Homo sapiens: one gene and its partners. The protein of the gene in region 1 interacts with the protein of each later gene in a pairwise test. Each region holds a gene or a part of one and is shown on either strand. Other genes may lie near its edges.

Region 1 (7,382 bases):
TAGCAGCGTGGGGCGGGCGGGGCAGGAGCAGTGGAGCAGACCCCAGCACTCCGACCTTTGGCTGCATGAACCTCAGCCCGTCCCACCCACCCCCTGCTGTCTGCCAGCTTGCCACAAAACTTCCCATCTGTGGATCTCCAGGCCCATGAATACCAGCCTGTCTGCGAGTTAGACGCCAGTCCTGGTGGCCCGGGAAGCCCAGATCCGCATCAGCGGTAAGTACCCCCTGACCTGAGACCCCTGCACCAGCTGGGAGGAGCAAGCAGGAGGGGCAGGAAGGCGAGGCTGTTGCCTAGAACCCAGACACTCCACAGCTAACTCTGGTGACACTTTCCACTCCCCACGCTGTGCCTCAGTTTCCCTGTCTATAAAAAGGAGCGCAGTCCTCTTCCTATAGGGAGTGTGCCTTGGTGAACCCATCTTCCTGAACAGTTGGGCCCCTCTTCTCAATTTAGGAAAAAGAAACTTCTTTTCTCCAAAGGAGCAGGAAAATTGTCTCCTCAGAGAAAGGGCCACTGGGGGTGCAGGTGGGACACAGCTGAGACACTCCCAGCTGTCCACACCTCTTGACAGGTGGCTGCCCTGTGGAGCCTCCCACCGCCATCCTTGCCCTGAGCCCAGATCCCTTGCATCGGGGCCAGGGTCTCCTAAGTATGCCCACCCCCAGGTTCTGCACCCCACACCAGCATGTGCTCACTGCCTGTGCCCCGGGAGCCCCTGCGTCGCGTGGCTGTGACTGGGGGCACGCATGGCAACGAGATGTCGGGCGTCTACCTGGCCCGGCACTGGCTGCATGCCCCCGCAGAGCTGCAGAGAGCCAGCTTCTCCGCTGTGCCTGTGCTGGCCAACCCGGCAGCCACATCCGGCTGCCGCCGCTACGTGGACCATGACCTCAACCGCACCTTCACCAGCAGCTTCCTCAAGTGAGTGCTTTTGCCGCCAGGTTGGCCCAGGCAGTTGGGCACCGAGTCCCCACCACAAAACTTCCCTCCCGCCACCAGCAGGGCCCTCCCTGCCTTCACTCCTGCTTCCCCTCTGCCTATGTGGCCCATTCCTCCACGGGACAAACCGAACATTTAGAGAAACCAAGATTGATGTCACCTCCTCCAGGAAGGCCTTCCTGACTGCAAGTTGGTTCAGGACCTCTTCTGGGGATCCCAGACCTAATTCTTCCCTCAGATTAGCCCCACAGGCCATGTTTACTTGTCGTGTGCCCTGATCACTGTTCATGCCTCCTTCCAATGAATAGTCACTGCATCCTATCTCCAGGCCAGGCTCTGGCCAGCTCAGGTGAGAGAATGGGGAATAGGACCAAGGTGTTGGCTTCAAGCTTAATGGGGAGACAGAGGAAGAACCGGGCAACCATAACCCAGGGGGCTAAAGGCAGGGCCGGAGGCTACACAAAGCAGCTAACCTGGCTGAGAGCAGTCAGGGAAGGCTTCCTGGAGGCAATGGTGTCTCAGCCAAGCCCCAAAGGCTGACTAAAAGCTAGCCAGGGGAAGAGAGGTGAGAGGGAGTTTCCACTGGAGGGCCAAGCACAGCACAGGCCTGGGGGTGAGACCAGCATGGTGCTCAGGCAGTGTGGCTGGAATGAGGGCATGAGAGGCAGGCAAGTGGGCAGGCAGGTGGGAGGGCGGGCCAGGCTGAGAGCTTGGATTTTACCGGGAAGTGCAGAGCCAAGAGGGCCACGGGCAGGGGTGGACACAGCCACAACGTCTGAAGGGAAAGCCCTCGCTCGAGCTGCTCAGAGTGGCTCCTGCAGGGCCCCTGCCCCTTTCCCCTTAAACCACTGAAGACTGACTGAGACTGTGAAGATCGGTGTCCCCCATTCCCGTCTCCACAGTTCCAGGCCCACCCCGGACGACCCATATGAGGTGACAAGAGCCCGAGAGCTGAACCAGCTGCTGGGGCCCAAGGCCTCGGGCCAGGCCTTTGACTTTGTCCTTGACCTGCACAACACCACGGCCAACATGGGCACCTGCTTAATCGCGAAGTCCTCCCACGAAGTCTTTGCCATGCACCTGTGCCGCCATCTGCAGGTGGCCCCGGCCCCAAGCACACAGCTCCCCAGAGGGGAGTGGGAGGGAGGGAGGGCAGGCGGGACAATGCTGGAACCTCCTTTGCTTAGCCCCTCTTCCCCGGGCCTAGTTTCCCCTGGGCTCCAGTCCCTGGGGTCTGCCACTCGCCAGCACTCCAGGCCCCCGGTACCCCCTCCCCTACCCTGCCAGAGGGTAGAGGGAGACCTGGCCAAGGAGGGTGGTGCCCTGTGTTTCCTCCATGCAACACCTTCCCACCTCAGTTTCCCTTCCCAAGTAGGCCTGGGCCCCTAACCTGCCTCTCTCGCCCCCAGCTGCAGTACCCCGAGCTGTCCTGCCAGGTCTTCCTGTACCAGCGGTCTGGGGAGGAGAGCTACAACCTGGACTCTGTGGCCAAAAATGGACTGGGTGGGCCGCAGCCTTCTGAGAAGTGGGCGGGGCCAGGAGGGCTGGAGGGGCGGGTCCAGTCACCAAGGGGCAGGGCCTCTTCAAGGAGTATATGGGTCCTGCACCTGCCTAACCCCTTGCTTCCTGGTCCCCAGGTCTGGAGCTGGGCCCCCAGCCACAGGGTGTGCTGCGGGCTGACATTTTCTCAAGGATGAGGACCCTGGTGGCCACAGTTCTGGACTTCATCGAACTCTTCAACCAGGGTGAGACCCCAGGGGACTTTCGGGAAACAGGTCCGGGGAAGAGCAGGTCTGGCTCAGGGGTTGGGGAGCCAGGCTCACAGGCAGGCTGGGATCTAGCCCTGACGTACCCCCACGGCCCAGTCTGTCCCCTAGCCTGGAGGGAGGGATGGGCTCACACACCCAGCCTCCCACACAGGTACGGCCTTTCCTGCCTTTGAGATGGAAGCCTATAGACCCGTGGGCGTCGTGGACTTCCCCCGCACCGAGGCCGGGCACCTGGCAGGCACTGTGCATCCTCAGCTGCAGGTGTGTGTGTGTGTGTGTGTGTGTGTGGTGGGGGGTGATTTCTGGGGCCACAGCCTTGGGGAGGAGGATTGTCAAGGAAAACTGAGCCCCAGGGGGTGCAGCCAAGCCTCCCACGAGCTCACCAGCATCTCGGGTTGAGGAGCAGGATGGGAGGCTGGGCTCCGCCATCCCACTTCCCCTGGCCCTGCTGCCTTCCCTGGAACCCCACACTCAGGCCTAGCACAAGAGGCCACAGTGATCCCCATAGCTCCTGTGGAGGGCATGATGGAGACAACCCTACCCTGGCTGTAAAAGGCAGAGGGAGGGGACATGGAGCAGGCATGACTCAATTCACCTGCTTGGAGGTGCAAATACAAAACTCTCTTCTGATTTTCAATTGGTTCCTCGAGCATCCCCATGCATGTTGGCAGTATGTCTCTCTGCAGGCCTTCCCTTCCTGAATGTTCCAGGATTAGGCAATCCTGCTTCCACACCTTTCCCTTGGGTGCCTGAGAAGAACGTACTGGCTGCTGCTCTGCTTGCTGCCACAGGGGGTCATTGTTGAATAGGGTCTGGTGCAATCTTGTGGCCTTTTGTGCCCTGAAGTTTCATTTTGAGGAGTTACCTTCTTACAAATGGAGGCAGCACCATCCCGTCCATGTTTAGGGCTAGACAGTCTTAATCCAGCCGTGCCCAGCTACCTTGCAGACGTTCAGTCATAACAGTCAATTTGGGTGGCTCCTCCTACAATTTTAAAATTTATTTTATTTTTTATTATTATTTTTTGAGACAGAATCTTGCTTCATTGCCCAGGCTAGAGTGCAGTGGTGCGATCTCAACTCACTGTGACATCTGCCTCCTGGGTTCAAGCGATTCTCCTGACTCAGCCTCCCCAGTAGCTGGGATTATAGGCACTCACCACCACACCCAGCCAATTTTTGTCTTTTTAGTACAGACAGGGTTTCACCACGTTGGCCAGGCTGGTCTCGAACTCCTGACCTCAAGTGATCTGCCCACCTCAGCCTCCCAAAGTGCTGAGATTACAGGCCACTGAGATTATGAGCCACTGTGCCCAGGCTTAAAATTTATTTATTTATTTATTTGAGACAGAGTCTCGCTCTGTTGCCCAGGCTGGAGTGCAGTGGCATAATATTGGCTTACTGCAACCTCCGCCTCCTGAGTTCAAGCGATTCTCCTGCCTCAGCCTCCCGAATAGCTGGGATTACAGGCGCTCACCACCACACCTGGCTAATTTTTGTATTTTTAGTAGAGATGAAATTTCACCATGTTGGCCAGGCTGGTCTTGAACTCCTGACCTCATGATCCACCCGCCTTGGCCTCCCAAAGTGCTGGGATTACAGGCGTGAGCCACTGCGCCCAGCCAAAATTTATTTAATAAAGAATCATATTGTACTTACCGTGTGCCAGACACTGCTGTAAGCACTATTAACCTGTTTAGTCTAAACTTCAGAATGATAGGAGGAGATATTGTAATCCTTATTTTACAGACAAGAAAGCTGAGAAACAGAGGTTAAGTGACTTGCTCACAGTTACACAGCTAGCAAGAATTTGAACTCCAGCTTCAATACCTGTGCCCGTATCCATGAGGGTCCACTTCCACATGGGCACATGCCACCCCAAGGTGACCTGTGTCTTCATTTCTAGACACAGAGCAGACTGGTATCTCACCAGACCTGCTGTCATATGGATTAAGGAAGTGAAGCATGGGTGGGAAAAGCCATGAATGAGGGGCATCTTTTGGGTGTCAAGCTGGGGTCACCCCCCTCTGGGGCCAGGGCAGAGGTGGCCCCAGCAATCTTGGCCTTTGGCTCTCCTCCCAGGACCGAGACTTCCAGCCACTGCAGCCTGGTGCTCCCATCTTCCAGATGTTCAGTGGGGAGGACCTGCTCTATGAGGGAGAGTCCACGGTGTACCCCGTGTTCATTAACGAGGCTGCCTACTATGAGAAGGGCGTTGCCTTTGTCCAGACTGAGAAGTTCACATTCACCGTGCCTGCCATGCCCGCGCTGACCCCTGCCCCGAGCCCAGCTTCCTAACCCAAGACACACCTCCCCAACCTCAGTCTTCCCATCTGAACGATGGGTCCTGAGGCACAGCTCTGAGCACAGAGGTCCCTTCTGCCACCTACCATGCACCATGTTCCTTGCCAGGCCTCCCCAACCCCTGGCCTCAATTTCCCTTTCTATAAAATGGAAGATGTCCAGAGGTCCATGGTTTGTGTCCTCTGTCCTGCACGGCTCCTCTCTGGCTGGGGAAGTGGATGGAGGAAGGGAGGTTGACCACAGGATCTGGGGGAGGTCTGGCCAGTGCAGCCTTGGACCTGCAAGTGTCTTGGGGCCAGTGGTGGCTGCCTCTGTGCCCACAGCTGTCCATCCATGCCTGGGGGAGGATTCCAGAGTGTGGGAGGAGAACCTGAAGAAGGATTGCTCTGGATCCAGCGGAGGGGCTTCCAGAGGAGGCTACAACCCAGAGGGGGACCCCCCAACCCTCCTATAGTCCTGGGGCCAGACAGTGAGTGTGGGGAGCGCAGAGACAGGCCCATGTCTGTGCACACATGTGTGTTTGTCCGTGCATGGCGCCTGCCCTGGATGCTCTTTGGCGTGCGTGTCTGTGCGTTTCCCACACACACGTGTTTCCAAGAGCCTCAGTTCCTTGGGCGTTCTAAGGGGATCTCTATGTGGCCAGATGTGCATTTTTAAGTGTGTAATGAGCCCGGTGCCCATAGTGGCTCAAGCAGGGAGTCAGGGCTGGGGGAAGGGCCACAGCAGGACAAGGCTGTCCCCATGCAGGACAGCCTGTCCAACTGCAGAGATGCAGGGAGGAGGTGGCTTGGGTTGGGGCACAGGGACTTCCCAGCTCTAATTGGGAAGCCACCATTTCCGCCATCCCCAGGACACCGCGCACTGATGTCAGGCGAGCCGGCATGAGGCCCACTGCTGAGGGCCCCTCTGTCCTGATGCTGGCACCCTTCAGGGTGTCATGGCAGGACAAATAGGCAGGGCTATATGCGACCTGGCTGCAGCCTCACTGCCCGCACCTGCCTGAGCCTAATGGACTCTTGTTGGACATCTGGGGCTGCTGGAGTCCAGAGTCCCCTCGCAGTGCCACTCCCCCAGCCCTCTACACCCCCACCCTGCCCATCCATTTCCCTGCGGCCACGGCTGCCACGCCACCTCCTGGTATTGAGCAGTGATATGAGAAGGTGTGAAGGATACGGGGGCACCAGGGACAGGCTGGCAGGCAAGATGGATGAGGGGGCAGGGGGCCAGCAGGCGCCTCGGGCAGGCAGGGCGGGCGGGCCAGCCGGGGAGGGGTGTGCAGGGAGGCCTGCCTGTGTCTGTGCGCGTGCTGTGTGGTAAGTCCATGTGCACAGAAGCTGTACGTGTGTGCGCCATGTGGCGAGTCAGCAGGCTCTGAGTTCATCCGTGTGTCTGCGTGCATGTGGGTTAGCATGTCAGTGTGCTCGTGTGTGTGTGTGGGAGGGGGGTTGTTTCCCATCACACAGATCAAAATCGCACACACACACGTATCAGGGGCCACTACAATCCCAGCCTGGCCCTCCCCTGGGTGTCTCGGTGAAGGGGAGCCACCAGTACTGGAATGGATCCCCCAACTCCCTCCATCATCTCCCCACTTCCCACCCACCATGCCATGGCCAGGGCAGATGACTACACCTTGTTGTATAGCCTCAAGGGGCTGCTGGGACCCTCCAACTCACACAGAGCACTCCCATCTTGCCTGGCAGCAACTCCAAAGTGCTGGCAGCCTTTTCTCACACAGCCGGGCATGGGGTTGGGCCAGGGGCCGGCCCTCCTCCTTTTACATCCCCCAGAGCCAGCCCACCGTCTTTGTGTGGGGTCCCATCCAGCTCTGCAGGCTGAGATGTGAGACACAAGGGATTGAGCCACAGGCATCCCTGAGCTGCAGCTGCGCCCAGAACATAGCGCTCAGGGAGAAGCAGCCCTGCCGCCCCCCAGCCCCTCCATGCCCCCTCTTAGGAATCAAGGCCACTGCCAACCCAGCATCCCCAAGACAGGATTCTGGAGGAGGTATGGGGGGCTCCAGCCAGACGACCCACTCTGTGCCATTCAGCAAGAGTCAAAAGGCCAGCGAGCACTCTCAACCAAGGAACTGGCAGCCTCTCAGGGGGACCTCCAGGTTCTGCCTCCCTGCAGAGTGATCCATGTGTCCCCTGAATGCCCAGCACAGGCTGTAGACAACCTGGAGAGGGTGCCCGGTCAGGCCAGAGAGAACAGACAGACCCACAGGCAGAGCGGACGCCCACTTCTCACCTGGGCCAGCCTCACCGTTTCCACTCATGTCCAGATGGGGATTCCGTGGACACCATCAGCCAGGGCAGTGCCCCCAGTTCCAGGCGGGATGGGCTTACCGCTCTCCAGGCTGGGCTAGA
Region 2 (10,790 bases), on another chromosome or scaffold:
AGTCTGTCTGTAAGGTGGGGACAGCTGTGTAGGCACTGGAAGAAAGGGAAATGCAAAGCCAGCAGTTGTTCACTAAGGAGGGATTAGAAGCGGCTAGGAGAGAATGGGTAAGGTTGATAGTGTGGTGGAGATAGCTGGGGAGAGGTAGAGGGTGGCATAAGAATGGGAATGAGAATAAGAGTGAGTATAAAAGTAAAGAATAGAACTTCATCAGGGTGGAAATATTGGAGGGTGCCTTGCCAGCAAAGATCATCTATCCACTCTAAGAGGGAGTTAAGAGTGGCAGTTTGGGGATAGCACCAAGAGATATCAGCTGTGATGGCTTGAAGAAACAGTGTAAACCGGCCGTGTAAACAAGAGTAGGGCATTTATAAGTAGTTGAGAATGGAGAATAGGAGTATGACCAGACAGAAGATAGTAGGGATGACTAGTTTTTTGGGGCTCGGCCTAAGTGGTGGGGGTGACTTCGTAAAGCCCTGTTGCAAAAAGTAGGGTAAGGACGAAAAACCTAATAGAATGAAGGGATGTATTAGGCTCATAAGGGTTATGACTGTTCTTCGAAATACGACTGAGTTTAAGGGAAGTAGGGGAGAGTACTTGCAACTTCCAGGAGGAAGAGGAGGGATTAGGCTGGCTGTCCGATGGACACAGCTTTATTCTGGAACGGTGAGCCTAGTGGGGAGGATCCTGCAGGCGGACAGCAGTCGGGGTACTATAGATGACTAAGTAGGGTCCGGTCCATCGAGGTTGTAGAGTTTGAGGAGTCAGATTAACAAGAACTGATCGTCCAGCTAGGGTGTCTTCATATGGCTGGGGATCTGGAGTAGGCAAGAGAAGCTTAGCAGCCTGGCGAATTTCCTGTCTAGCCTGCTGGAGGACTGGAAGACAGTCGCCTAGAGGGCTGGTGTCTGGGATGAGGTTGGGGCCAAGCAAGAAAGTGCGTCCATATAAAAGTTCAAATGGACTGTACCTACCCTGTAGCATCTCGAGAACAGGCTCTAATTCTGAGAAGAGCAAGAAGTAAAAGTACTGTCCAATCCTTTTTAAGTTGGAGGCTGAGCTTGGTGATGTGTACCTTTAAAAGACCATTAGTCCGTTCTACCTTTCCTGAAGATTGAGGACTGTAAGGGATATGAAGGTTCCACTGAATACTAAGAGCCTGAGAAACTGCTTGGGTGATTTGACTAGTAAAGGCTGGTCCGTTATCAGACTGTATAGAGGTGGGAAGGCTAAACTGAGGAATTATGTCTGACAGAAGGGAAGAAATGACTGCGGTGGCCTTCTCAGACCCTGTAGGAAAGGCCTCTACTTATCTAGTGAAAGTGTCTACTTAGACTAAGAGGTATTTTAGTTATCTGACTCGGGGCATGTTGAGTGAAGCTAATTTGCCAGTCCTGGGTGGGGGCAAATCTTCAAGCTTGATGTGTAGGGAAGGGAAGGGGCCTGAATAATCCCTGAGGAGTAGTAGAATAGCAGATGGAACACTGAGAAGTTATTTCCTTGAGGATAGATTTCCACGATGGAAAGGAAATGAGAGGTTCTAAGAGGCGGGCTAGTGGCTTGTACTATAGCATAGCCTGCCTTTGCTGCTATGTGGCGATTAGGCCTGGTGGAACCGCCATCAATAAATCAAGCGTGATCAGGGTGAGGAACAGGAAAGAAGGAAATATGGGGAAATGGGGTGAATGTCAGGTGGATCAGAGAAACACAGTCATGGGGGTCAGGTGTGGTATCAGGAATAATGTGGGAGGCCAGATTGAGGTCCGGGCCAGGAACAATGGTAATTGTGGGACTTAACAAAGAGTGAGTACAGCTGAAGGAGCCGGGGAGCAGAAAGTATATGCATCAGGTATGAGGAAGAAAATGGATTTTGGAAGTTATGAGAAATGTAGAGAGTGAGTTGAGCATAGTTTGTGATTTTTACGGCCTCTAAAAGTATTAAAGCAGCGGCAGCCGCTGCACGCAGACATGAGGGCTAGGCTAAAACAGTAAGGTCAAGTTGTTTGGACAGAAAGGCTACAGGGTGTGGTCCTGGCTGTTGTGTAAGAATTCTGACCGCACTAACCATGCCTAGGAAGGAAGGGAGTTGTTGTTTTGGAAGGGATTGAGGTTTGGGAGATTAATCAGACAAGATCAACAGGCAGAGCACGTGTGTTTTTATGAGAATTATGCCGAGATAGGTAACAGATGAGGATGAAATTTGAGCTTTGGAGGGGGATACCTGATATCCTTTGGAGAGTAAATGCTGAAGGAGCAGAAGTGTGTCTTGTTGAGAAGATTCAAAGGAGGGGCTACAAAGAAGAAGGTCATCAATATATTAAATAAGGTGAGAAGCGGAGGGGTGGAAAGAAAGTAGATCATGAGAAAGAGCTTGGCTGAAGTAATGAGGGCTGTCCCTGAAACCTTGTGGCAGCACAGCCCAGGTAAGCTGCTGGGACTGATGGGTGTCAGGGTCAGTCCAGGTGAAAGCAAAGAGAGGCTGGGACAAGGGGTGCAGGGGAACGCTGAAAGAAGCATCTTTAAGATCAAGTGTGGAATAGTGAGTTGTGGAGGAAGGTATTGAGGATGAAAGAGTGTATGGGTTGGGCACCACAGGGTGGATAGGCAAAACAATTTGGTTGATAAGGCGCAGATCCTGAACTAATCTGTAAGACTTGTCCGGTTTCTGGACAGGTAAAATGGGGGGATTATAAGAAGAGTTTATAGGTTTTAGAAGCCTATGCTGTAGCAGGCCAGTGATAACAGGCTTTAATCCTTTTAAAGCGTGCTGTGGGATGGGATATTGGCGTTGAGCGGGGTAAGGGTGATTAGGTTTTAATGGGATGGTAATGGGCATGTGATCAGTTGTCAGGGAAGGAGTAGAAATGTCCCATATTTGTGGGTTAAGGTGGGGGGATATGAGAGGAAGACGCAAAGGAGGCTTTGGGTTGGGGAGAAGGGCGGCAATGAGATGCGGCTGTAGTCCAGGAATAGTCAGGGAAGCAGATAATTTGCTTAAAATATCTCGGCCTAATAAGGGAACTGGGCAGGTGGGGATAACTAAAAATGAGTGCTTCAAAGAGTAATGTCTAAGTTGGCACCAGAGTTGGGGAGTTTTAAGAGGTTTAGAAGCCTGGCCGTCCATACCCACAACAGTTATGGAGGCAAGGGAAACAGGCCCTTGAAAAGAAGGCAACATGGAGTGGGTAGTCCCCGTTTCGATTAAACAGTGGGTGGACTTACCCTCCACTGTGAGAGTTACCCAAAGCTTGGCGTCCGTGATGGTCTGGGGGCTTCCAAGGCGATTGGGCAGCGTCAATCTTCAGCCGCTAAGCCAAGGAGTCAGTCAGAGAGCCTTGGGCCAGAGTTCTAGGGGCTCTGGGAGTGGCTGCCAGGTGAGTTGAACAGTCCGATTTCCAGTGGGGTCCCGCACAGATGGGACACGGCTTAGGAGGAATCCTGGGCTGCAGGCATTCCTTGGCCCTGGTAGTCAGATTTCTGGCACGTGTAGCAAGCTCCTGGGGGAGGAGGTTCTGGAGGAACGCCTGGCCGCTGCGGTTCAGGCATTTGGAAGTTCTTGTGTGCTGGAGATGTGGCTGGGGTTTGTCTCACAGTGGAGGCAAGGAATTGCAACTTTTTTCTATTATTGTACACCTTGAAGGTGAGGTTAATTAAGTCCTGTTGTGGAGTTTGAGGGCCAGATTCTAATTTTTGGAGTTTTATTTAATGTCGGGAGCAGATTGGGTAATAAAATGTATATTGAGAATAAGACGGCCTTTTGACCTTTTAGGGTCTAGGGGCTGAGGAAGAATTGGAACCTAGCTCGGCCTGGCGAGGAGGGGAGAGGTCAGATGGGTCTGTAGAAAAGGAAGATTAGAAAGACTCAGCAACGCTTGGGGTTGGGACTGAGGGGACAGGCGGGAGGGAAAGAAGGAAGATTTGGGACGAGTTGCACTGGGCACAGAGACTAGGAAGGGACTGATGTGTAAAAGAATGCCTGGACATCAGGCACCTCAGACTGTTTGCCCATTTTACGACAAGAATTATTTAGATCTTGCAGGATGGAAAAATTGAAAGTGCCGTTTTCTGGCTATTTGGAACTACTGTCGAGTTTGTATTGGGGTCAAGCGGCATTGCAGAAGAAAATAAGGCATTTATTTAGGTTTTAGGTCAGGTATGAGTTGAAGAGGTTTTAAGTTCTTGAGAACACAGGCTAAGGGAGAAGAAGGAGGAATGTAGGAAGGTTGCCCATAGTGAAGGAGGCAAGCCCAGAGAAAAGAGAGCGTAGAGACATGGAGGGAAGGGGTTTGGGGGTTCTTACCCTCCAGAAAAGCGGGAAAGGGGTTGGGGCATGGAAATAAGGGATTGGGGCACAGAGATACGAGTTTGGGGTACTTGCCTCTCCCCCAGAAAAGCGGGACTTGCCGCTAAGGGTGAAGGAGAAGGGGTTGGGGGGTTCTTGCCCCTGCCCCAGAAAATCAGAGAAGGGGTAGAGACACGGAAAGAAGGGGTTGGGGTCCTTGCCCCTTCCTCAGAAAAGCGGGACTTGCCGCTAAGGGTTATGGACCAAGGCAGGTGTCCCTGCGTGGTCTGACACCTCTGAAACGTGGGTGAATGATCAGAGGCGTCCTTGCAATGATTAAACACCAAGGGAAGGCTGCCTTCCCAGTCCGTGACCGGCGCCGGTTTTTTGGGTCCACAGATAAAACGTCTCCTTTGTCTCTACCAGAAAATGAAAGGAATTGAAATTAAGAGAAGGGAGAGATTGAAGTGTGGCGCCTAGATTGAAAGGAGAAAGACGGTGAGGGATAGGGAGGTTGGAGAAGAGAGTAAAAAGAGGCTGCTTATTGGATTTGAAATTGGTGAGATGTTTCTTGGGCTGGTGGGTCTGAGGACCTGAGGTCGTAGGTGGATCTTTCTCATGGAGCAAAGAGCAGGAGGATAGGGGATTGATCTCCCAAGGGAGGTCTCCCGATCTGAGTCACGGCACCAAATTTCATGCGCGTCCATGTGAAGAGACCACCAAACAGGCTTTGTGTGAGCAACATGGCTGTTTATTTCACCTGGGTGCAGGCGGGCTGAGTCCGAAAAGAGAGTCGGCAAAGGGTGGTGGATTATCATTAGTTCTTATGGGTTTTGGGATAGGCGGTGAAGTTAAGAGCAATGTTTTGCGGGCAGGGGTGGATCTCACAAAGTACATCCTCAAGAGTGGGGAGAATTTCAAAGAACCTTCTTAAGGGTGGGGGAGATTACAAAGTACATTGATCAGTTCGGGTGGGGCAGAAACAAATCACAATGGTGGAATGTCATCAGTTAAGGCTATTTTTACTTCTTTTGTGGATCTTTAGTTACTTCAGGCCATCTGGATGTACACGTGTAAGTCATAGGGGATGCGATGGCTTGGCTTGGGCTCAGAGGCCTGACAGTAGGTGTTCTAGAAAGGTGTGTTGTGTTAATGTGTGAATACTGACTCCCCTCCTCAGTCACTGAGGCGGGGAGGGTGTTTGGCTCTTTTGAGGCATGTGAGAGTTGGTTGTGCCTTTGGTTTTTTGTTTGTTTTTTTTTCTTTTGAGTCTCGCTCTGTTGCCCAGGCTGAAGTACAGTGGTCTGTTCTTGGCTCACTGCAATCTCCGCCTCCCAGGTTCAAGTGATTCTCCTGCCAAGCAGCTGGGATTACAGGTGCGCACCACCACACCCAGCTAGGTTGTGCCTTTGTTAGGTTCTCTGTGACTTTTACCCACTGTGCCATTCCTGAAAGAAATCTTTTTTTTTTTTTTTTTAATTAGAAGAATTACTGGAACTAGCTTGGCACTGTTGGACACAGTCTTTGTCTCAGCTACTCGAGAGGCTGAGGCAGGAGGTTCGCTCGAGCCCAGCCTGGGCAACATAGCAAGACCCTATGTCCGAAGGAAAAAAAAGGCAAAATCAGAATTACCAGAACTGATTTCACATGTGTAGGTAGCAGATGGTGGCCATGCAATTCAGGTCTGTCTGAAGGCCCCCAGGCCTGGTACAAAACTGTGTAAGGCCAGTACAAGGCCCTGACAGGTTCCCAAGTGGCTGGACTGGAAGAGATGCCAAGTTCATGGCCTCCTAACCTGACTCCACCCAGCACTCCCTGGGCCCAGCGACGTTCCCTCCTGAAGCCTGAAATTCACCTCCACCTGAGGAGGCCATCTGCCTGGGGATAGGTTCTTGCAAAAATGAAAACACTCATTTCCAGAGGCAATTAATTCTTTTAAAGGATGTCAGATTTTTGGTACAAAATCATGGTTTCCACGTTGGCTTCATGCTCGGTGCTTTATGAGAAAAATCCCTTTTTTCTACGGTTGTGTTCATTGTATTGTAAAGCAATCGTAGATTATTTTAAGGTTTTGAGTTAGAGTGATTATCCAATTTTATGAGGGAAATAAAGGAATTCCATGAGAAAAACGGGGGCTTTCCTGCAGGGCTCGGGGTTGCGGGAGCGGCAGATAACCTGATTCATTAACGTGAGCCCAGTGGGATTGGTGGGGGTGATGGGGACACAGATGGGAGCACTCAACTCAGGCACAGGACCCCAGCAGAACATGCCCAGGTCCTCCTAGACATGGGCCCTTGCAGACTTTCTGAGGCCTCGGTTTCGTCATCTTACCAAGGTGTGACCCCAACCATCATCTCCTGAACTTCTGGCCACAGAGCTGTGAGCAAGCTTCCATCATGACCCCATTTTGGAGATGGGGAGTTGGCGCAGCCACACTGCTGCTCAGTGGTAGAACCAGCATCTGACCCAGGCCACCTGTTCCAGAGACCCTGCTTTTAGCCAGCAGCTCAGACCCCAGTCATGTGGGGCCATTTATTTATTTATTTAAGATAGAGTCTCCCTTTGTCGCCCAGGCTGGAGTGCAGTGGTGCGATCTCGGCTTACTGCAACTTCCACCTCCCGAGTTCAAGCAATTCTCCTGCCTCAGCCTCCCGAGCAGCTGGGATTTCAGACGTGCGCCACCATGCCCAGCTAATTTTTGTATTTTAAGTAGAAATGGAGTTTTGCTGTGTTAGCCAGGTTGGTCTCAAATTCCTGACCTCAAGTGATCCACCCTTCTCAGCCTCCCAAAGTGCTGGGATTACAGGCATGAGCCACCATGCCCGGCCCACGTGGGGCTGTTTAAATTAAAATCAAATTAACTGAGTTCCTCCATTGCATTGGCCACGTTTCAAGTGTGCAGAGTGACACATGGCCAGTGGCTGCCATCACCGCTGATGTCGCCACGTCCCTCATCACAGGAATATCCCTGGCAGCCCTGCTCCCGGCCCTCTGCCCTCCTGACGCTCCCTTGTGACTTGTTAGAAAAGCGTAGGTACAGCTAAAAAAAAAAAAAAAACTGATGGCTGTGAGAATACTGTCACTCGCTGATGCCTTCTGTGTAGAAAAATAAGCCTTAGACAGATCTTCGCAAGAACATCGTGATGGCTCTCATAGGCATAATTACGTGTTCCAAGCCAAATTGCAGTTCAAGAGAAGGTTATAAATCTCTTCTTAATAACAATTGTACTCACGTTCCTCTCCTGGAAACTAAGAGGAAGGTAGCTGAAGAAACTCTCCCTGCCCAGTTAAATCTTGTTTTTTGGGTACTTTTGGACTCCAGGGTCACATCAGCAATGGCCCGGGACAGACGAGGGGGAGCCTTCATCTGTACTTCGTGTCTTTCCAGGGTGGCAATGACCATGAGATCTTCACAGACCCCAGAACCATGGGCTACTCCGTGACAGCGCCTGAGGACACGCGCAGGATCTGTGAACTGCTGTTCTCCTAACGTGGGAGCGGGAGGGGCGGGGTCCCGGCTGACAAGCCAGCATAGGGCATTCGGTGGCCAGAGCCGAGGGTCCTCCCACACGTGCTCACCCACCCGCAGCCTAGGCAGGCTCTGCATGCTATGCCAGGCATGTGCAGTCTGGACTTCCACCTCCAGTGCCAGAAACTTCCAGAAGGAAGGAGAAAACTCTTGTCAAGAATGGCCCAGAGGAATGCCTCGCACAAAAGGTCTTCCCCACCCACCCCCAGCCCCCTAGTCTAATACCCACCCTGATACGTGCAATCATGTAGTTTTGGCGGAAATTTCCCCATCATTCTAGGATGATACAGAAAGAAAAACTGTGCCTGGACCCTCCCTCTTGGTGGGTCTGTGGAAACATAAGCGGTTTTTTTAATGGGCCCCTGCATCAATACCAAACATGGGGGTTTGGTAATGAGAAACCAGGACAGGCCATCTGCAGTGACCCAGCCCAGGACGAAGTTTACAAACACCTCCTGGAACGAAGCTCCCGCCTGCATGTCACCTTGATGGGGGCTGTGAGTGGGGCAGTGTGATACCCAGTGACTAGACGCACTCTGCGTTTTCCCGTGTTTGGGGCTGAGGCCTGCTGGACAGATGGCTGGCCAAGTGGGAGCAGACCCTAGGGAGTTTGCACCTCGGCTGGGCCGGATTCGGACCGGCTCTGTGTTCACTACACTCAGAATAGCCTGGCTGCTTCTCTGTCTCCGAGACCGGAGGTAGTGGGAACCAACAGCTGGGCTGGAGAGTTGGTGCTGGCAAAACAGTCCTTGCCCTGGGGCCGGTTCTTACCCAGGTCCAGAGAAACCAACGCGGGATGTCAGACTTCACCAAAAGGACTTTCTGGTTGCCCCTGGCTGGCTTCCTGGAGGCGTTCGCCTCTAGTTTCTCAGGGATGGAGCGAGAGCCCAGCCAGAGAACAGTAAGAGGAGCTGCTCTCCTATCTGCACTCACCCAGGCCTTCACCCAGACTTTACCACGGAGGCGGCTGAGTGCAGCTACAGCTAGGTCCGCGTCCCTCACTCTTTTCATCTTCTGCACGTTCTTCGTGAAACTGGAAGGATCCCGGGTCTCAGCTAGAACACGGTGGAAGAGAACTTTCCTAGGAAACGGTTCATGTGTCACTTTTCAGGATGTGGAAACACTGAGCCATACACCCTCCATTGCTTGGTGCTGGGGTTGTGTGGCCTCCACTGGGCACTTGCCGACCTGAGTCTGGGGCCAGGGGAGCCCAGGCTGCCCTGCACTCCTGCCTCCCAGCCCACAGCCAGGTGCTTTCATCACAGCTAAACCTGGTTCCCTCCAAACCTCCCAGCCACTCGGGCTTGTAACTGTCTGAGCCCCGGATCCGGTGGGGTGAAAGCAGCCAGCTCATCCCAGTGACTCACAGGACACAGCCATCCAGCGGCATCTTTCCTTGTCGAATGATACTGTAATGACCTTCCAAAGTGAAGAGTAGCACATTAAAGTGATTTTATTGTTTCCTGTTTCTCATTCCGATTTCTTTTTCCTCCTATGTTCCCAGATTCTGGAATGGAACCCCAGCCCTTCCAGGTCTGAGAGCCACTCTTTCTTTACTCTGGATTTCTGTCACATCGGGGGCCCCTCCCTCTGCGGAGTTGCATGTTGCTGTTCCTGATGCACAGACTCCTCCCCCGCTGCTTTTCTGCCCACTGGGTCAGGATCTGCCATTCTTTACAAGTTTCCTTAACGTATTGCGTCAAAGCGAGACAACCGAGTCTTACTCAAACTTGTTTTAACCGGAGATGGAGGGTTGCTGCTGTGTCACCGCCTGCACAGGGCTGCCCTCAGGTGAGTACCCCGAGTCTGCCAGGCTGGGTGCTGATGCGCGGAGGTTTGGGCCGTCCCTGCCCCAGTTCCCACAGTGGCTGCTTGAGACCCTCCCCAGGCCCCTCGAGCCCCTCCTGCACTGTCTGCTGCCTCCCTTCTGCAGTCAGAATTGACACTCCCCTTCCACCTTCTTTGTCATCACATTGCATCCCAGGCCAGCTTCCTGGGGCTTACTCCAAGGGCATCGGCTTGCCCCGCACTGTGGTGGGATGTAAAGTGATAACAGCTAAACGACGCATGCACAACATGTCCTGGTGCCTTCTGCGTGACCCCAGAGCAGCAGGTTCTGCACATGGCAGGTAAGAGCACAGCTGCCAAGACCCCAAGCCTAGTTCTGCTGCTACAAGCTGCTGCGTGACTTAAGGTGAGTTCATCTTCGCCTCAGTTTCCTCCTCTGTCAAATGGGATAGTCCTTACCGTGTATGGAATTTAAAGCACTTTGAACAGTGAGTGTGAGCCATTACTAACTCAAGTAATACCCCTTCCCAACCCAGAACCCTATAAGGCAGGGACAGTCAGTCCCTCTCTCTGCTTTAGGGGGTTGCAGGATAAAGACACCGTCACAAGAAATTTAAACACAGTAGGTAAATTTTGAGCCACAGCAAAGCACAGAGGTTGCATCCAGGCCAGCTTAGCACTGTTGAAAGTCACCATCCCCAGCACTGCAGAAGCTGACCCTGAACTCAAGGTCACCCAGGGCTTAAGCCTCAGAGAAAAGGCCTGGGTTGAACCTGAGCAGTGGGTGAGTGCAGGGCAGGCCTCTGGCTCCCTGGAGGGAGAGGCTAGCCAGGAAGTTGAGCTTGAACCTGATCCCGAGGGAGAGGTGTGGGGCATGCTCATGATCTGTCCGGGAAGGTCTCTCCAGCTACTGGAAGGGGAGTGCCCACAGGGGCCAGGAGAAGGCAGTTGGGCAGATGTTGCCGTAGTCCGGACACATCCAGGCATACGTGGTTTTGAATCACTTCCTCTCCAAGGGCTGCTGCTTCCTCTCCACCCCTCCCAAGTGTTCTGGCTCTGGGCCCCAGCTGGCCACCTCAGCCCAGGCAGGCTCCTCCAACCTGAACGACAGGCAACCTCCACGCTGCCTGCCACGGCACCCCAAAGTCAAGACGTAGAACTCATTCCACCTCCTTCACCCGAGGCTGCTTT
Region 3 (10,512 bases), about 10 Mb from region 1:
GTGGCGCGATCCTGGCTCACTGCAACCTCTGCCTCCCATGTTTAAGCGATTCTCCTGCCTCAGCCTCCTGAGTAGCTGGGATTACAGGTGCCTGCTACCACACCCAGCTAATTTTGGTATTTTTAGTAGAGATGGAGTTTCACCATGTTTGCCAGGCTGGTCTCGAACTCCTGACCTCAGGTGATACGCCCGCCTCAGCCTCCCAAAGTGTTGGGATTACAGGCATGAGCCACCGCTCCTGGCCAAGATGATCCCTTTAATATTAGAACATAATGATTATTCTTGGGCCCATCTCTACTAAAAATACAAAAATTAGCCAGGCATGGTGGCACATGCCTGTAATCCCAGCTATAGGCTGAGGCAGGGAGAATCGCTTGAACCCGGGAGTCGGAGGTTGCAGTGAGCCAAGATCAAGCCACTGCACTCCAGCCTGGGCAACAGAGTGAGATGCCATCTCAAAAAATAAAAAATAAAAAAAAGAACATAGTGGTTATTCTTGATTGAGAACCAGATTAATTAGTTGCCTTGCATTTAGGGTGTATATTATGTGAAAAAATGCATACTGTGGTTCTAAACACTAGAAATAAACTCAGTGAGTCAAAGGTTCATACTGGAAGCAGCAACTATGAAATTGACATAGAAGGAATAGTAGATACTTGTCTCCTATCTCATGTACAATCCAGGGCATATGTTCCTTGAATAGAATGACTGAATTGCCAGGCACAGTGGCTCACACCTGTAATCTCAACACGTTGGGAGACCAAGATGGGAGGATTGTTTGAGCCTAGGAGTTCAAGACAAGCCTGGGAAATATAGAGAGACCTCGTTGCTACAGAAAGTTAAAAAATTAGCCAGGCATGGTGGCACATCTGTATTCCCAGCTACTTGGGAGGCTGAGGTGGGAGGATCACTTGGGCCTGGGAGATTGAGGCTGCAGTGAGCCCTGATTGCACCACTGCCCTCCAGCCTCAGTGACAGAGTGAGACCCTGTCTCAAAAACAAAAAAGAATGACTGAATTACTCTATTTCCATAGTTCTTACTCTCTCCTTCTCTGGACCCATATAGTTGAATTCCCATAAGGTAAAGGCCCCTATAATATGTCTCCCTTGTATATATTTTGCAAATTAGACACAGTGTCTAATGTGGTTGAGTCCCCAACATTCATTCTACTGCACATGATTTGCCTAACTAGTCATGGTTTAGTTTAGTAATGGATTACTTAGCATGATTACTTAGTGTGAAGGCCAAGGTGTTGTAATAGAAATCTCAAAATTCAGTAGCATAAAGAAGATAGAAGTGTCTTTCTCTCATAAATTATTGTGGCCAGTCCAAACTGGTGGTAGGGTGGGAGAGATGTGGATAGCACAATTTCATTTAGGGGCCTAGGTTTTTTCTTTCTGTTGCTCTATCATCTCCTAGAACATTTGAATTGTAGGAACCGGTTGTAGGCATGGCAGGGCTCTAACTTGCAAGGAAGAGGAAAGAGAAGAAAAGCTCATGCCAAACCTATATATGAAATCATTTCTTCTGCTCATGTTCCATTGAATTTTATATTAGTGATAGCACAGTCACATGACCACATTTAACTGCAAGAAGTACAGAAAACGGAGTGTCTAGCTTATCAGCTATATGCCCCAGAAAATGGGCAGAATGGATTTTGAAAGAACAACTAGTCATCTGCCATTATGAGATGGGAGGGTAAGTTGGCTAGCAGACTTTTGGAAAAGATTTCCATTTTCCTAAACTAATAAAGAAGCACATATAATACTAGACCAAAAGTTTGTTGTTAATATTTTGATAATTCCACTTGTATGAAATGTTTCCTCTATAATCTTACATATCTTCTTTTGTGTATTCTAAAACATTATTCTGAGAAGGGGACCATCGGCCTCAATAGACTGCCAGAGGGGCCTGTAGCACAAAAACAGGCCTCTGCCCTGGCAGAGGCAGCAAGATTATTTAACAGCCTGTTAATTCAGACAAGCAATAATGAGAATGTGACTCAGGCAGTGTCCACAGGGGATAGATTCCAGAGATCCTTTAAACTTCACTCACAGAATCTGCTTTTATCAGCAATACAGCCAGATGATAGCATTGCTACTACCCATTTATGCTCACTTAATTTTGGCAGAAGGAAATACTTCTTTGGAAGAGTAGTTTAGGAATGTTTTCTTTTTAAAGTTAGCATGAAATAGGGAGAAATGTTCAAGACAGACAGGATGCCATCTTGTTGTTTAGCTGGCATAATGGATATTAGCTGGACATTTTTCCACAATTAATAGCTTCCCCCGCAGAAAAAACAATAAGCTTTTACCACCTTAGATCGTGTGACAGAAAGCCTCTTAAAGTAGAGGAACAGAATCAGACACTCAATAGGAAGAAGAGCCTTAGTGATTTGCCCTGAGGGATTGGAAGCAGCACAGGAATTGCTAGTGGCAGGTTGAGGATGCCTCAATAATAGTCTCAAGCTCCAATCCCATGGATCCACAGGCCCTTGCAGAGTTATCTTTCATTGCTTTGTACATGACACTGTGAGCCTGCAGTAAAGCAGCAGCAGCCCAGTTCATCACTTGAGTTCCATTGATCCAGCCACTCCAATGGGCTGTGGCTGTCTCCAGTCTAATCTCCAGAGGATTATGGGTTTGTAGTCTCCTATGACCTTACACTTGGATTTCCAGCAGTCAGTGGCCTCTTGTTTCATTTTACTAGAATGTGAGCTCTGGGTGAGAGAGTGAGACTCCATCTCGAAAAAAAAAATATTAAAAAAAATAAAACTGCACATGTAAATATGTAAGACATTATTATTACAGGATTTAATGAAAACTCATATTCATCCTCCCCATACGTTTCTTTTTTTTCTTTTTCCTTTTTTTTGAGACAGAGTTTCGCTCTTGTTGCCCAGGCTGGAGTGTAGTGGCACAATCTCAGCTCACTGCAACCTCCACTTCCTGGGTTCAAGTGATTCTCCTGCCTCAGCCTCCTGAGTAGCTGGAATTACAGGCGCATGTCACCACACCCGGCTAATTTTTGTATTTTTAGTAGAGACAAAGTTTCACCACCTTAGCCAGGCTGGTCTTGAACTCCTGACCTCAGGTAATCCTCCCTCCTTGGCCTCCCAAAGTGCTGGGATTACAGGCATGAGCCACTGTGCCCGGCCCCCATGCCTTTCATAAATATATAAATTTCATTCCTATCTCCATAACGTCTCATCTTCCTGAACTGGAAAACGCTTCTTTCTCTCGCCCATTTGTTATCTCTTTGATAATTTCAACAGCTCTTTTCCTATACCATCTCTACCATTAGAAGGTACCCCTTCTACAACCACTGCATTCAAGGCCTATTCATTTTCATACTTCGAGACCCAGTTAAAACAGCATGTCTTCCATGACAGTTTCCCACTTGGGTTTATTCACTCTGTCTTCTGAGATCCTCAACTCCATTTCTTCTCATCCTACTACAAATATTTGCACATTTTCACTAACCTTACCTGAATGAAACTCCATGGAACATTTGGTTCATCTCAGTATTGCTACTGCTTAGAAATACTGAGACTTGGCACAGAGTTAAGTTCTCAGTAAATGCTGGATGAATGAATGAAAGGATAGAGGTATATGGGTCAGGAAAGGAATGCTTTGTCTTTGGGAGCTTCAGTGCTAAAAGCATTGTCCTTGTGCAGAAACATAACAGGTGGAGCCCAGTAGGTTGGGCTGGTAGTTCCCAAACTCTAACTCCCATATCCCCTTTGCTGACACAGAGGTAGTTCAAGAAGCTACCATCCTTTAATGCTCAATTCATCTTTGTTAAACACATCACCTTAAATGTGCCTAGAAGACTGGGAAGACTTTTCAGAGTGATTGGTAGGTTTTAAAGCATAAAAAGAAGTTTCCTGGAGTTAGCTGGGAAGATTAGGAAGTTCAGAAAAAAAGTAACAATATAGAGATTGTTATGAAATTTTTCTAAAGTCAAAATTTTAGCATGCTATGCAAGTGCTTTCTTTTCCCACCTCATCTGTCACTCTACAAACAAGTTGTACTGACTTTAACTGTTCTTCTAGTCTTTTTCTTTCCTCTGAGCCTTTTTTTTTTTTTTTGAGACAGAGTCTCGTTCTATCGCCCAGGCTGGAGTGCAGTGGCACAATCTTGGCTCACTGCAAGCTCTGCCTCCCAGGTTCACGCCATTCTCCTGCCTCAGCCTCCCGAGTAGCTGGGATTACAGGCACCCGCTACCTGGCCCGGCTAATTTTTTGTATGTTTAGTGGAGACGGGGTTTCACCGTGTTAGCCAGGATGTTCTTGATCTCCTGACCTCGTGATCCACCCGCCTCAGCCTCCCAAAGTGCTGGGATTACAGGTGTGAGCCACCACGCCCAGCCGCCTTTTTTTTTTTTTTTTTTGAGATGAAGTCTTGGTCTTGTTGCCCAGGCTGGAGTGCAATGGCGTGATCTCAGCTCACTGCAACCTCTGCCTCCCAGGTTCAAGTGATTCTCCTGCCTCAGCCTCCCGAATAGCTGGGACTACAGGCACGCGCCACCACACCCAGCTAATTTTTGTATTTTTAGTTGAGATGGGGTTTCGCCATGTTGACCAGGCTGGTATCAAACTCCTGACCTCAGCCTCCCAAAGTGCTGGGATTACAGGTGTGAGCCACCATACCTGGCCACCTTTTTTTTTTTAATGTACAGTCCAGAGGTTTTTGTTGTTGTTGTTGTTGTTGTTGTTTTTTAACACAAATTATGGCGTGAATTCACAGGGAATAGGCTCCAGCAACTCAGGCTCCTTCCCACTGGTTCTTACACAGTGTGCTTCTCTGGGTGTAGCAGGCTGGCGCTTAATTTGAACCCGGGTACCTTTCTCTCTGGCTTCCTTCTTTTACTAAACATTTTCCTTCACACATTTCAGGAAGCTCTATTGGCTCTTAGTGTGCTTAATGTGCTCAATAGGCACAATTCTCTTGGCAAGAATCTGGCCTGTAACTTATTTGTTTACAACAATGCCAACAGCACGTTGGGTAATACCGTAGACTCTTCCAGTTTTGCCATGGTAACATTTGTGGGACATTCCTTTTTGAACAGTACCCATTCCCTTGATGTCTACAGTATCACCTGTCTCATAGATTCACATGTACCATGTGGCCAAAGGAACAACTCCATATTTTCTAAAAGGCCTAGAGGACATATATTGGGTGCATCTCCTCTTTCCCTTTGTATTTGTCATTTTGGCAAATTACTGGAAGATGGTTGTTCCAGCCAAAAGGTCCTGAGCCTTTTAAAATGCTTTTTCCTGTACTTGGAATGCCTTGTTTCCCGGATTTCGTTTATTTATCTCTTTTTCTTTTTTTTTTTTTTTTTTTAGATAGGGTCTCACTGTGTTGCCCAGGATGGAGTGCAGTGGTGCAGTCATGGCTCACTGCAGCCTCGACCTCCCAGGCCCAAGCAATCCTCCCAACTCAGCTCTCCTGAGTAGCTGGGACTACAAGCATAAGCCACCACACCCAGCTAAGTTTTTATTTTTTGTAGAGACACGGTCGGTCTCCCTATGTTGCCCAGGCTGGTCTTGAACTCCTAGGTTCAAGGGATCCTGCCTCGTCAGCCTTCCTAAGTGCCTTAAAGAGCCTATGAGTGATGCTTGGCACAAAGTGAACCTCAGTAGACATTTCTTGAATGAATGAATCCCACAAGAATGCCTATTGCAATGAAAGATTGAGAGCAGGTACCTGTCTACTTTCTCTTTCCACATCCAGCATTCTCCTGGTGTGCAGCCTGCAGATGTGAAGGAAGTTGTTGAGAAGGGTGTACAGACTCTTGTGATTGGCCGAGGGATGAGTGAGGCCTTGAAGGTAGGTGTTGGTATGCACAGCATTCCTGAGGACAGGTGGGGATCTCTTGGGCCTTTGTCTTACAGACTTGTCCTTCTTGGGAGGTCATCTTTATATATCATGTACCCTCATTTTGCTGACCCAGGATAGCAGTGGCTGCACACATTCCTCTGCCTCATCAGCGTTGGGCTCTCCAGTCTACCTAACCCTGAGACAGTGTCATTTCAACTATTTCTCAGAATCCCTCAAGTTCTACAAGGATCACTATTTGGTCCTTTATATTTTAATAATACTTTATATCCTCATAGTATATTTTATAGTACTTCTAATTTTTCTTTTATTGGACACATTTATAGTTTTCCCCTCTTCAGAAAAAAATTTAATTTAATTTTTTTTTTTTTTAAATATAGATGGGGTCTCACTATTGTTGCCCAGGCTGGTCTTGAGCTCCTGAGCTCAAATGATCTCCCGCCTCGGCCTCCCAAAATGCTAGGATTACAAATGTGAGCTACCACGTCTGGCCTATTTTTTAATTTTTTTTTTTTTTTTTTTTTTTTTTGAGACGGAGTCTTGTTCTGTCGCCCAGGCTGAGTGCAGTGGCGCCATCTTGGCTCACTGTAACCTCTGCCTCCCGGGTTCATGCCATTCTCCTGTCTCAGCCTCCCGAGTAGCTGGGACTACAGGCGCCCACCACCACGCCTGGCTAATTTTTTTGTATTTTTAGTAGAGACGGGGTTTCACCGTGTTAGCCAGGATGGTCTTGATCTCCTGACCTCGTGATCCACCTGCCTCAGCCTCCCAAAGTGTTGGGATTACGGGTGTGAGCCACCATGCCTGGCTTATTTTTTAATTTTCTTACAGAAATAATATATGCTCATTGTAAAAGATTTAAAAATTCAATGCAGAAATGTAGAAGTAAAAAGGTGGGAGATTCCCTTCCCAATCTTCACATTTGATGTATATTTCTCCAGTCTTCTCTGAATGCATCTGCAAATATATACACACTTACACATATAGATATACGTTTATATACTTATAACCATTTTACATAAATAGGTCAGTGCTATATGTATTCTATAACTTTTTCCCCCACTTACATTACTGTATTATGGATAGTCATCCATATAGAGGCCTACCTCATTCTTTCCTTTATAGATGTCTTACAGTCCTGTTCCTTACTGATGAAGGTGCCCCTTACATCTAGGGCTTTATATATATAGGGCACCTTCATCAGTAGGGCTCAAGCAATCCTCCCATTTTGGCCTCCTGAAGTGCTGGGATTAAAGGCTTGAGCCACCATGCCCAGCCTATTTATATTTTAAAATTTTAAACTAGTTTGTTTTCCCCATTACAATAATTCCTATCTGATAGGGTACTTTTATAAATCTCAAATATATAGAAAATATAGGGCATATTAAAAAATATTTCACTTGAGTTCTTTCTGAGGCAGAGTCTAATTAAAATCTATTTTTAAAAAATATTCAGGACAAGCCAGAGTTGAGAAAATATCTAATAATAGCTGTCACTATTAAGAACATCTTTTATATAAATTCATTTACAGATATTTATTAAGCATTTTCTATGGGTAAGGCACTATTCTAGAAACTGGTGACGGTGCGATAAACAAGACAAACAAGGTTCATGCCCCTCATGGATAATAAAAAACTAGACAACTTCAGATAATAATAAACGCAGTGAGGAAAATGGTGACTTATGCTGGGCTAGTAGGGGGTGGGCAAGAAAGGCCTTTGTGAGAAGACATTTGAGCTGCAGTGTACATACATGAGTCAATTTCATCCTCACACCAACCCTGTGATGTAAGTACTATTATACCTATTTTACAAGGGAAGAAATTGGGGCTGGGAGACTTTAAAGAGCTAGCCTAACATTTCTTAGCTAGCATGCGGCAAAGAAGAAATTTAGACTCAGTTTAGACTAACTCAAACATTTAACATTTATGGAGTTTGCACACCAAGGTAGATGTTTCACATACCCTTAGCTCAGTTAGTTGTCATACCAACCCTAGGTGTTAATGTCCCTAATTTACAGACATGAAAACAAAGACTCAGAGAATTTAATTTACTTACCCAAGGTTACAGTGCTAGTAAGGATGTAAATCCAAGGCTAACTGCAAATCCCATGTTCTTTCATTTCCATTTCACTTGAGCTTTATGCATGGGTATTATGATACCTCTGACAAAGAGGCCTTTTTGACTCATTGGGGCTCACTGCCAAATTTTGGACTGGTGATACACTGAGTGATCGTGAAGTGACGATTGTCACTGTCTAATTCTGTAGAGTACACCTGCCTCATGGCAGTAAAGGAACCCCTGGGGGGCCTTTCCCCCTACTTACTCATCTCTTTTCCACCTTCCCAGGTGCCTTCATCAACTGTGGAGTACCTCAAGAAACATGGCATTGATGTGCGGGTCCTCCAGACAGAGCAGGCAGTGAAGGAGTATAATGCCTTGGTTGCCCAAGGGGTCAGGGTGGGAGGTGTCTTCCATTCCACCTGCTGATGGAGCCTTAAGAGGAGAATAAATCACTAAGTGCCTATGCCTGTGACTGTCACTCACCATTCTCCAAACCAGCCTCCCCTAAACATTTTTGGACACCTACTCATGCCAGGTCCTGTGCTAGGCTCTTGGGATGCAGGGATGACCAAGACAAGGTCCCTGTCCTTGAGGGTGCTAAAAGAAAAAAAGATGAGACAGAAGTTTAATAATATAGTGAATGAACTGAGGGAACATCTGAGTAACAGGAACAGTAGGAGTATGCCCTGGGAGTTGGGTTCTAGACAGGCTGTTCTACTAACCAACCCTGAGACTGGAGCCAGATTGTTCTCTCTGGGCTTCAAATTTCAACTATAGGCCAGGCGCCATGGCTCACGCCTGTAATCCCAACACTTTGGGAGGCCGAGGTGGGCAGATCACTTGAGGTCAGGAGTTCAACCCCAGCCTAGCCAACATGGTGAAACCCCATCTCTATTAAAACTACAAAAATTAGCTGGGCATGGTGGCACGAGCCTGTAATCCCAGCTACTTGGGAGGCTAAGGCAGCAGGAGGATCACTTGAACCCAAGAGGTAGAGGTTGCGGTGAGCCGAAATGGTGCCACTGCACTCCAGCCTGGGTGACAGTGAGAGACTCCGTTTCAAAAAAGAAAAAATTCAAGTATAAAATGTTGGGGCTGGCTAGATGCCCTTTAAAGGTTCCTACTGGCTCAGATAGTCTTTGTTCTATTAAATACCGAGGTGGCCTTTGTGAAGCCTTAGAATAGACTGAGAGAACTACAAGCTATCAGCATCACCTTATTTTTAATTTTTCTTTCTTTTTAAAGAACTATGGGCTTTGGTGTCAAATAGCCTTGACTTTGAACTGCAGCTCACTGCCACTCACTGGTTGGGTATTTGTCTAATTTCTTAGTTTCACTGTTCTCATCTGTCAGATCAGGATAACATTAGCAGTACCTGGAGTCATTGTAGGTATTAAATGAGGCAATTCATAGAAAGTATTAACTCACTGCATGGCATTTAGTAAGGACTCAATACATTAAACCACTGTTGTCCTTATCTTTCTATTAATGGGGATACTGTGTAAAGCCAACTAGTTTCATTTTATGGTTCTTAATATAGCAGCTTATTATTTCAAAGAGCCATAGAATGTTGGAGCCCAAAGGAACTATCTCACTCATTTATTCAGTAATTCTCTTTCATATCCATTTACGGACAGCCTATTACTAATTTTCTTATGACCAGTTATTGTTGGGCCCTGGGGGAATAAGGATGAATGTTACAATTCCTGCCTTTGGGAATTATGTTGTATGAGAGAAAGACAAATAAGTAAACAATAATGATACAATGTTAATATTATAATAGTTACTAGGTCCAGTGGTGGCACAAAGAAAAGACTAATTTATCCCACTAGGATGGAAGGAAAATTAAGGAAGACATCACTAAGGAGATGACATTTAAGCTGAGTCTTAAAAAATGGAAGGTTCATTAATTCACTGAAAAAACACTTACTTGGCAGCTCTTTTAACTAGACATTTACTAGGTATGGTATTTATCACAGCCATAACTAAATAAAATCGCTCCACCCCAGCCATCACTGGAGCAGCAGCAGTGGAAAGATGATTTTTGCTTCACATGATCCTGCCACCTGACTACGTAGTTAGTTAGGCTTCTGACCTACAGGGACCAATCTATAGACTGGACAGCAACTTAAGATGTGGCTTGGCAAGAAAAGCTGAAACAGTATGGAAAGTGAAGGGATTTATTTTTTTCCAAGTTCTCCAAGTAAGTGGCAGACGTAGGATTAGAACCCAGCACTGTGTCTTTATCAGTTTATGGCATACACCTCCTTGCTCCCTAGAAGCAGACGGGAGTGAGTGCTTCACAGACCCGACACCCAGCATTGAAGTCTCGGAAGGATCTGCTTGGTGCCCTTTCCGCAGCCCTTTCATTTGTCAGATGACAGATCTTTCTAGATCTGTTCCCTTGGCTCATAAAGCCAGCCCTCTGTATAGCTAAGAAGGATGTTTGATAAAATTCAGACTGTTTCTCTAGTGATGCAGTCTTTTTTTTTTTTTTTTGGTCAAATGTAAGGTGAGACAGCTCTGGTGGGTGTTGAATTCAGTGTGGGTGTAATCATTCTTCCTAAGTGAGTTGTCTCCAATTAAAGAGAACTTAGTGTAAACT

The links.
Region 2: the proteins of ACY3 (region 1) and PMM2 interact in binary tests that used the Homo sapiens proteins (3 or more experiments, as listed by UniProt).
Region 3: the proteins of ACY3 (region 1) and AAMDC interact in binary tests that used the Homo sapiens proteins (3 or more experiments, as listed by UniProt).

What each region holds. Positions count from the first base shown.
Region 1 is NC_000011.10:67,640,349-67,647,730, reverse strand, and holds the end of ACY3 (N-acyl-aromatic-L-amino acid amidohydrolase (carboxylate-forming)), read left to right. Parts: intron 1-107; exon of another isoform or gene 108-141; 5' UTR 142-215; intron 216-667; 5' UTR 668-687; coding exon 688-923; intron 924-1,269; coding exon of another isoform or gene 1,270-1,290; intron 1,291-1,843; coding exon 1,844-2,039; intron 2,040-2,350; coding exon 2,351-2,444; intron 2,445-2,578; coding exon 2,579-2,686; intron 2,687-2,861; coding exon 2,862-2,971; intron 2,972-4,791; coding exon 4,792-5,007; 3' UTR 5,008-5,176; downstream 5,177-7,382. Other genes in the region: T-box transcription factor TBX10, read left to right, coding at 5,977-6,326, 6,970-7,129. UniProt on the Homo sapiens protein: Plays an important role in deacetylating mercapturic acids in kidney proximal tubules. Also acts on N-acetyl-aromatic amino acids.
Region 2 is NC_000016.10:8,840,054-8,850,843, forward strand, and holds the end of PMM2 (phosphomannomutase 2), read left to right. Parts: intron 1-7,670; coding exon 7,671-7,772; 3' UTR 7,773-9,272; downstream 9,273-10,790. UniProt on the Homo sapiens protein: Involved in the synthesis of the GDP-mannose and dolichol-phosphate-mannose required for a number of critical mannosyl transfer reactions.
Region 3 is NC_000011.10:77,863,983-77,874,494, forward strand, and holds the end of AAMDC (mth938 domain-containing protein), read left to right. Parts: intron 1-5,739; coding exon 5,740-5,835; intron 5,836-8,169; coding exon of another isoform or gene 8,170-8,192; coding exon 8,193-8,333; 3' UTR 8,334-8,370; downstream 8,371-10,512. UniProt on the Homo sapiens protein: May play a role in preadipocyte differentiation and adipogenesis.